Linked DNA regions of Homo sapiens: all the other regions are linked to region 1. The links come from fine-mapping of genetic effects on gene expression. A gene starts in region 1. Each other region holds a variant in brackets. All regions are shown on one strand. Distances are between the middles of the regions. Region 1 holds the start of HYAL1 (hyaluronidase 1). Region 2 overlaps SEMA3F-AS1 (SEMA3F antisense RNA 1). Region 3 overlaps SEMA3F (semaphorin 3F).

Region 1 (2,751 bases):
TGCCTCCCAGTCGATGACTGCCAGCCCTGAGAAGTCAGGAGCAGGTATGGCAGCCAGGATGTCCTGGAATGTGCGGGCCAGGTGGGCAATCAGGCTGGCATTCTGGGGCAGACCACCAAACACAGGCTCCCCAGTGGGCGTGTAGTAGGGGTAGGTGCCCAGCTGGGAGCTATAGAAAATTGTCATGTCAGGGCCGCGGAAGGTCTGCCCTGGGTTGGCTACCACATCGAAGACACTGACATCCACGTCCACACCGTGCCTCTCCAGGCACCACTGGGTGTTTGCATTCCAGACGGTGGTGAAGGGCCGGTTGGGTAGCAAGGGGCCCCTAAAGCCTTGGGCCATATCGAGTAAGGTCAGGAAGAGGGCGCAGATGGGAAGCAGGTGGGCTGCCATGGCACGGGACTGGTCGAGGACAACCTGGCCAGGGGAGGCAGAGCTGAGAACAGGTTGCAAAGTCTCCGATTCCCCCACTGCTCAGGGCTGGGGGGCTGAGCCCTTGCGCATTAATCCACCGCTGCTCTGGTTTCTGTTAAACATTGACCTGCAGGGCTCCAGGAGGGCAGGGGAGACGCATGGAGGGGAGCATGGCCACTGGAGGGCACATCCGAGTTGCCTCTCAGACCAGGCCTCTGCCATCTCCCACAGGACTTGCTCTAGCCTAAGCTCGCCCACCCCTGCTTCCCCATGAGCCACTGAGGCCATGACATATGTTCTGGGAAGAGTGGCTGACAGCCAGGCCCTCAGCCCCCAGGCTGACCCGACCAAGGGGGGGAGGCCTTCCTGTCTCTTCCACCAGAAATCCTGGCAGCCACTGGAGGAAGATCCAATGGCCTCAGTGACCAAGGACAGGTCAACCCAGCCCTCCTGTACACCCGCCAGTCTGCCCGCTCGTCCCTGCTGACCTTGGGGCTGAAGGGCCTTATCCTCCAAATTTCCTGACCCCAGGATGGGGGCCTAAGCAGGGCCTGGCCAGATTCCACCCCAGCTGCACCAGAGACTCCTGGAGGAAGGAGCCGCTGCTGGAAATTCTGAGCTTTTGTAGGGGGTCACCCCACCCAGGCCAGGGGCGGGCCAAGGGGCGGGCCTTGGATTAGGAGGCCAGGCCAGCCAGGCATCAGGGCTACCTCTGAATCCCTGGCAAAGGGATCTTGGTTGGGGGTGGGGCTGGGCCAACAGTGGCCCCTCCCACGCTGTCAGCACTAGGGCAGGGCTTTGTGGCCTTACCTAGGCTGGAGGAGGTGGGCAGGGGCAGACCCTGCTGGGCAGGCCTGTTTGTGACACTGGAGACCGGGTTCTTTCGTGTCTTGTGCTCAGGGAGTGTTCTTTGTCCACGTGGCTGCATCTGACATTGATGGGCCCTAGGCACTTTACTTTCGTGGATCTTTTCCTCCTTAAAAAAAATATTTTAAAATATGGCCAGGCATGCCAGGTGCGGAGGCTCACGCCTATAATCCTAGCACTTTGGGAAGCCGAGGTGGCAGATCACGAGGTCAGGAGATCGAGACCATCCCGGCTAACATGGTGAAACCCCTTCTCTACTAAAAATACAAAAAATTAGCCGGGCGTGGTGGCAGGCGCCTGTAATCCCAGCTACTCGGGAGGCTGAGGCAGGACAATCCCTTGAACCCGGGAGGCAGAGGTTGCAGTGAGCCAAGACTGCTCCACTGTGCTACTATACTCCAGCCTGGGTGACAGAGAGCGACTCCATCTCAAAAAAAAAAAAAAAAAAAAAAATATATATATATATATATATATATATATATATATATATATATGGCTATAGTCTTAGCACTTTGGGAGGCTGAGGTGGGAGAATTGCTTGAGCCCAGGAGTTCGAGACCAGCCTAGGCAATGTAGCAAGACCCCATCTCTACAAAAAAATTAAAAATTAGCTGGGCATGGTGGTATGTACCTGTAGTCCCAGCTACTTGGGACACTGAGGCAGGAGGAGTGCTTGAGCCCAGGAGGTCATGTCTGGGTTACACTATTATATATTAATTATTAATATATTTACATTTATATTCTTCTTCTGATTAAAAAAACATTTTGTGGGCCCCTGAAAGTACTGTGGCCCTAGGCCTTGGGTCTATTGTGCTTAGTGGATAAGTCATCCCTGTTGTAGGGACCTGTTTCTGAAAGGCACTGTGTTCATGAAGTCAGGGCTGTGTCATCACCCTTTGTATATGTGCTGGGTTAGTGACTGTGTCTTTGTGAAGCCCCATTTAGTGACCATCTGAGCCTCTGCACAAATTCCAGTGGCAAGTAGGTGTGAGTGTGGAACCCAGTGCCTGGGACTGGGTGTGTGTGAGCCCTGCTGTCTTGTGAGCATGAGATCCTGTGTTTGTGTGACCATGCATATGAGCTGTCAGTGAGCACATGCTTGTTCATTCATTTGTGGTTTCACTTGTTCAATATGTGAAAGGAAAATATCTTGGGCCCCTTCAAGCTGGGAACCGCTCAGGACAAATCTGCCTCCCATTCTATTCAAGTCATCCTTTTGCTTACAGACATAGATGCATATTATGATTGCCTCCATTGCCTCTTTTGGAAAGACTACCAGAAACTCAAAAGAATGCAACCATCTGTCTGTCACCTGCCTGTGACCTGGAAGCCCCCAGTGGGGGGCCGTGCTTTGAGCTGTCTCCACCTCTCTGGACAGAGCTTATGTACTTCTGTTTTTTTTTTATTTTTATTTTTTGAGACGGAGTCTCGCTCTGTCGCCCAGGCTGGAGTGCAGTGGTGCGATCT
Region 2 (2,751 bases), 160 kb before region 1:
GGCAGCAAAGGCCCCCCAGGCTGGCAGTCTCCAGCAGTGCCCAGCCCCAGCCCCTGGTTCCGTGCAGCTCTGCTTCCTGGGGCCAGCTGAGCCTGCCCACCTAGCCTAGGCACCTCCGGCTGGGTCCTCCCCAAGGACTGTTCGAGGGCCCACGTCTGCCTTCACTCTGCTGCTCTGCTGCTCCGTCCAGGCCCCCCTGGCCCTTGGAAGAGCCAGCCCAGGTGAAGCTCATGTGCCACTGCCGCTGCCCTCACCCTATCACCCATCGCTAGGAGGTTGTGAAGCTGCCTGAGTCCTGCCCCAGACAGCACCACACTCTGGCCTCCAGGACACACCATGGCAGGGCATGCCTCCAGGCTCTCCCACCACTGTTCACTCATCCTTCAGGACAGGATATCTGTGATGCGTCCTTTAAGGCCCAGCAGCAGTGTCACCTCCTCTAGGCAGCCTTCCTTCAGTCACCCTCTCAGCCCCAGGGCACCCTCTGCACCCCGTCACCCGGACACCTCCCTGCTGACCTGGGGCTTCATCTTCTTGCCCTACAGCTCCTGGTGCATAATTGTTTACAGGAACTGTGGGCTGGGTGTTGGGGTCAGAGCCAGAGTGGGAGAGCCAGAGTGGGGCTGTCCTATTTAAGGAAGGAGAGAGGTGGGGGCCCAGGAGACCCAGGTGGCCTGCCATTCCCCTGACAACCCACGTGCTGGTCCCTCCTCCACCCGCCCTGGTCCTGCGGAGGACAGTAATGTTGTCTTTGCCTGTGGAGGCTCCGGTGGGTGTAACGTGTGTGCTAGGTGGGCCACCATGCAGGCCTGGATGCCCAAAGATCAGAAGCAATGGCAGAAGACAGGGTCAAGGCTGGGCAGTTGAGGACTGCCCCAACCTGAGTGGACCCTTCGGTTGGATGAGAAGATAAATGCGCCCCCACTCTCTCCTGGGGCCGCAACAGAGCAATTCCACAGTCTCTTGTGCCCCAGTGATGGCGTCTACGTCTCCCTGTCATCTACCGGGGAGGGCTGATAAGTCATAACAAAGGTGACTCAGGGAGCCTGCGCCCTACACACTAGATGCTGCTCCGGCAATCTGTGCTCGGTGGCTAGTTTGATCCTTTCGGCACCCTGTGAGGAAGAAACTTGCTCTCATTTAACAGCTGAGGAAACTGGGGGCAAGTGCATACCCATGGGAGGGTGAGAGCCTCATACAGCCAGGCCTGGAGCTGGGGCCCATCATGGGGCCTGCAGGAGGCGTCCATGCACATGC[G/A]TGCACATGCACCCCCAGCCCCAGCCTCGTGAGTCCTTCTTCTCTCTTTTTTTTCTTTCCTTCTCCTTCCCTCCTTCCTTCCTTCTTTCCTTCCTTCCTTCCTTCCTTGCTCCCTCCCTCCCTCCCTCCCTCTCTCTCTCTTTCTTTTTTTCTTTCTTTCTTTCTTTCTTTCTTTCCATGGGGTCTCGCTCTGTCGCCCAGGCTGGAGTGCAGTGGCGCAATCTTGGCTCGCTGCAAGCTCCACCTCCAGGGTTCACACCATTCTCCTGCCTCAGCCTCCAGATTAGGTGGGACCACAGGTGCCCGCCACCACGTCCAGCTAATTCTTTTGTATTTTTAGTAGAGACAGGGTTTCACTGTATTAGCCAGAATGGTCTCAATCTCCTGACCTTGTGATCCACCCATCTCGGCCTCCCAAAGTGCTGGGATTACAGGCATGAGCCACCGCGCCCGGCCCTTCCTTCCTTCCATCCTTCCTTCCTCTCTTCTTTTTCTTTCTTTCTTTTTCTTTCTTCTTTCTTTCTTTTTCTTTCTTCTTTCTTTCTTTCTTTCTTTTCTTTCTCTCTCTTCCCTCATTCCTTCCCTCCCTCCTTCCTTCCTTGTTTTCTTTCCTTTTCTTTTCTTTCTTTCTTTCTTTCTTTCTTTCTTTCTTTCTTTCTTTCTTTCTGTCTCTCTCTCTCCCTTCCTTCCTTCCTCTTTCTTTTTTCTTTTTTTTTTTGACAGAGTCTCACTCTCTCGCTCAAGCTGGAGTGCACTGGGCTCACTGCAACCTCTGCCTCCCAGGTTCAAGCAATTCTCCTGCCTCAGCCTCCCGAGTAGCTGAGACTACAGGCGTGCGCCACCAAGCCCAGCTAATTTTTGTATTTTTAGTAGAGACAGGGTTTCACCATGTTGGCCAGGCTGCTCTTGAACTCCTGACCTCAGGTGATCCACCTGCCTCGGCCACCCAGAGTGCTGGGATTACAGGCGTGAGCCACTGCGTCTGGTCTCTCTCTTTCTCTTTCTGTCTCTTTCTTTTTCTTTCTTTCTTTCTTTGTCTCTCTCCTTCCTTCTTTCCTTCCTTCCTTCCTCCCTCCCTCTCTTCCTTACTTTCTCTCTCTTTCTTTCTTTCCTTTCTTCCTTCCTTCCTTCCTTTCTTTCTCTCTTTCTCTCTTTCTTCTTTCTTTCATTTTTGAGAAGGATTCTTGCTCTGTCCCTAGGCTGGAGTGCAGTGGTGCAATCTCGGCTCACTGCAACCTCTGCCTCCCGGCTTCAAGCAATTCTCCTGCCTCAGGCTTCCAAGTAACTGAGACTACAGGTGCCCACCACCACACTCAACTAATTTTTGTATTTTTACTAGAGACAGGGTTTCACCATGTTGGCCAGGCTGGTCTTGAACTCCTGACCTCAAGTGATCTGCCCACTTCTGCCTCCCAAAGTGCTGGGATTACAGGTGTGAGCCACCACGCCCAGCCCCAGCCTCATGATTCTGATGTTTGGGTAGGTCGAGTAAGG
Region 3 (2,751 bases), 140 kb before region 1:
CAAGCAGCCCAGGGTTCCCTCAGATTAGGGGGGCTCCTATGGCCCAGCTTCTGGGCTTCAGCAGCACAGCCAAAATCAGGCAGAAGTGAGGGTCAAATGGAGATTTCCAGGAGCAGGTGAGGTGTTTGTTCATTCCTTGCTCTTGAGAGAGTGGAGCCTGGGCTGGAAGCCTGGACAGACCCTCCTTCCTTCACCCATCCATGCCTGGGCCTGGAGTCCCCTACACTGCAGAATCACTGCCAAATCTCAGAGAAAAAGCTCTTCCTTCCCCCACCTTGAGATGACCCAGGCTCTGGGGCACCACCTCCCTCCGTGGCAGCAGCAGGGAGGTGTGAGGGCCCTGCCAGGCCCTTTGTTCAGCCTGGGGAGTGTTTACTTTTTCCCAGGAAGCTACCCCACGACACACTGCTGCTGCCTGGGCTGGGTTTGGCCAGGGATTGGGGCCAAGAGATGTTTGGTGGGGTAGAAGGACCCTGTGATGACATGAGACAGTTGTGCTGCTAGGGAAGCTGAGGCAGAAGTAGGGAGAGGGAGCAGAAGGTCACCCTGCCAGGGGAGGTCAGGAAAGATGAACATAATCGAAATAGTAGTAGGAGCCCATGAGGATAACCAAGCAATGGTCCCTCCAAGACCTAAAGAGGGTCTGCCTAGGTTTCCTGTGAGGAAGGAGGCTTACGGGGGCTGAGCGGCTTCCCAGGTCACTCAGGAGCAGGACTGAGATGGAGCCTGCATCCGCCTGATGCCTGAGGCTGTCCCAGGACTGAGAGTGGAGGGCAGGGATGGTGGTGGTGCTGGAGGCACAGACCCTTCACATGAGCTAGGAACAAGGAAGATTCCAGCATTCTGCAGTGCTGGTTTAGGCTTCCTAGCCTCGTTTCCCAAAGAAAGGGCTGGGGTCGCACTGGGCAGGCTCCCCATGCCCTCTGTCTGCCGAAGCAACGGAATTGGGGTTTGCTTATTTCCAGGCTATAAATCCGGCCCTCCATCACTCTGGCCCTTCCACTGAGCAGGGTCCCTAGGAAGGCC[T/C]CTCATGTCAGAGATGGGAACATCAGGGCCTAAGAGAGGAAAGGGCTCCTGTTCCAGAGCAGCCTGGAGTTTGAGCCCTCCAGGCCAATAGCCCAGAACAGTGCCACCGCTCACATCATTTGCATGTGGCATCAGAGGACCAAGGTTGCCAGGTTTGGAGATGATGAGGTTAGAGGTTAGGAAGGGTCACAGCCCGTTGACTTCCCCTCAGGAGTTGATGTGAGTTGAGGTGCCTCTAGCAAGCCTTGATGGGGCCTTAGCCCTCAGGCCTGGTGCAGGAGTAGGGGTGGGGCTGGAGAGCTAGAGGACATGCTCTTGCCCCCCAGGGGCTCCTTGGCCAGCCAGAGCAAGGCATGGGGCTTTGGTGGGGGAGGAGGGGGAGGAGGCCCAGGAGCTTTGAGGCCAGTGTGGCACCAGGGAGCTGGGCAAGGGTCAGGTGGCTCTGGCAGCTACAGTGGGGGTTGGAGCTCACAAGCCAGGGAGGGTAGGTGTTCCAGGATACGCCAGGATGAGGGAGGAAGGAAGACCCAAAGCATGAACTTGAGCCCAGATCCCTTGAGGCCAGATCTGGAGTTTCAGTTTTCTGGAAATGGGAGCTGCCTTACTCCTGAGAGACTTGGAAGTGGCCGCTTTGGAGTTGGGAGGTCCTGGAAGCTGCACATCCCCCAACTGGCTAGGAATTGGTCTTTGGAGAGAATGGAGACAGGGTCCTTGTGCTTGCTGGAGAACCTGCCTGACGCCCAGCCTGGGTCAGCCAGGCCAGGGGCTGGGGCTTTCAGCTGTGGCCTTCCAGGTCAAGTGGAGCTTCAGATGGGACCTCCACTGTCTGGGCCTCCGCAGCACAGGCCTTGTCTCTGGTTCCCTGGCATGATGCCCGCCCCTCCTTCCCTGGCTCCAGCTTCCCTTGGCACTAAGTGAGGAGCTGGTGCATGCTCAAGGAGTAAATCATGTTCCTTGGCAGCCCCCACTGCTTCGTAATCGTAAAGAATTTAAAGAGAAACCGCCAAGATAAAAATCTCACCAGCCCATAAAGGCATCTTTCACCCTGCAGCTTGGGAGACAGTGAGCCTCAGAGTGGGCTCTTGGCTGTCTGCACCTGTGTGTATGCACCTCCGGCCCCTTGACTCCTCCAGAGGTGGTAATAGCTCAGAAGGTGGCTTTAGGGCCATGGGTACCTGGTCCTTGACTCCTGGGAGACCTCCATCTCCTCACTCAGGAGAGTGGGGTGCTTAAATTTGGTGTAATGCAGAAGTGGTGATGGTGGTGGCTGAGCTAGCTGGTCCCAAAGGCAAAACCCAGTTCTACCAGTGTTAGCTGTGTGAGTTCAGCCAAGTGGCTTAGCCTCTCTGAGCCCTGGTTTCTCCTGTGTAAGGTGGGAATGGCAGTGGCCCTGTGGAAGCAGCATCATGAGGGCTCAGACTGTCTTGCTTGCATCCTGGCCATGGGTGGATCTTGCTTGGTGAACATCATTCTGTGTTCCCACTGCCTTTTCTGGAAAATGGGAGTAAGAACAATACTGGCCTCGTTGTGTTGTCAGGAGGATTAACTGTGTGAGTATGGTCACTGTGGAAGAAATCTCAGTCACCAGGAGCGATCCTGAGGCTGGTGTGCAGGTGAGGGCAGGTCCAGGGGCATGCCCCAAGGAGTCCCAGACTGCCTCACCCCTTCCTCCAGAATTCTAACTTTTGGTAAGGGAGATGGTATTTGGAAAGGACTCCAGGAAGG

Evidence for each region. PIP is the estimated chance that this variant, and not a neighbour inherited with it, causes the effect.
Region 2: its variant is the best candidate, but not a certain one, in a credible set for the expression of HYAL1 in lung (TOPMed, PIP 0.68).
Region 3: its variant is the best candidate, but not a certain one, in a credible set for the expression of HYAL1 in left ventricle (GTEx, PIP 0.60).

The regions. Positions count from the first base shown.
Region 1 is chr3:50,302,561-50,305,311 of GRCh38, forward strand. HYAL1 (hyaluronidase 1) reads right to left here and starts at 1,014. Exons shown (of 4, transcript NM_033159.4): 1 at 906-1,014; 2 at 1-420. The coding sequence starts at 396. RefSeq lists enhancers at 498-1,432, 1,250-1,419.
Region 2 is chr3:50,140,132-50,142,882 of GRCh38, forward strand. All of the region lies in intron 1 of SEMA3F-AS1 (SEMA3F antisense RNA 1), which reads right to left. Among named protein-coding and RNA genes, the nearest start is that of SEMA3F, 14 kb to the right of the region's middle. RefSeq lists enhancers at 107-668, 669-1,230. The variant G/A (reference allele first, on the strand shown) is at 1,258.
Region 3 is chr3:50,162,330-50,165,080 of GRCh38, forward strand. All of the region lies in intron 2 of SEMA3F (semaphorin 3F), which reads left to right. Among named protein-coding and RNA genes, the nearest start is that of SEMA3F-AS1, 7.6 kb to the left of the region's middle. The variant T/C (reference allele first, on the strand shown) is at 1,027.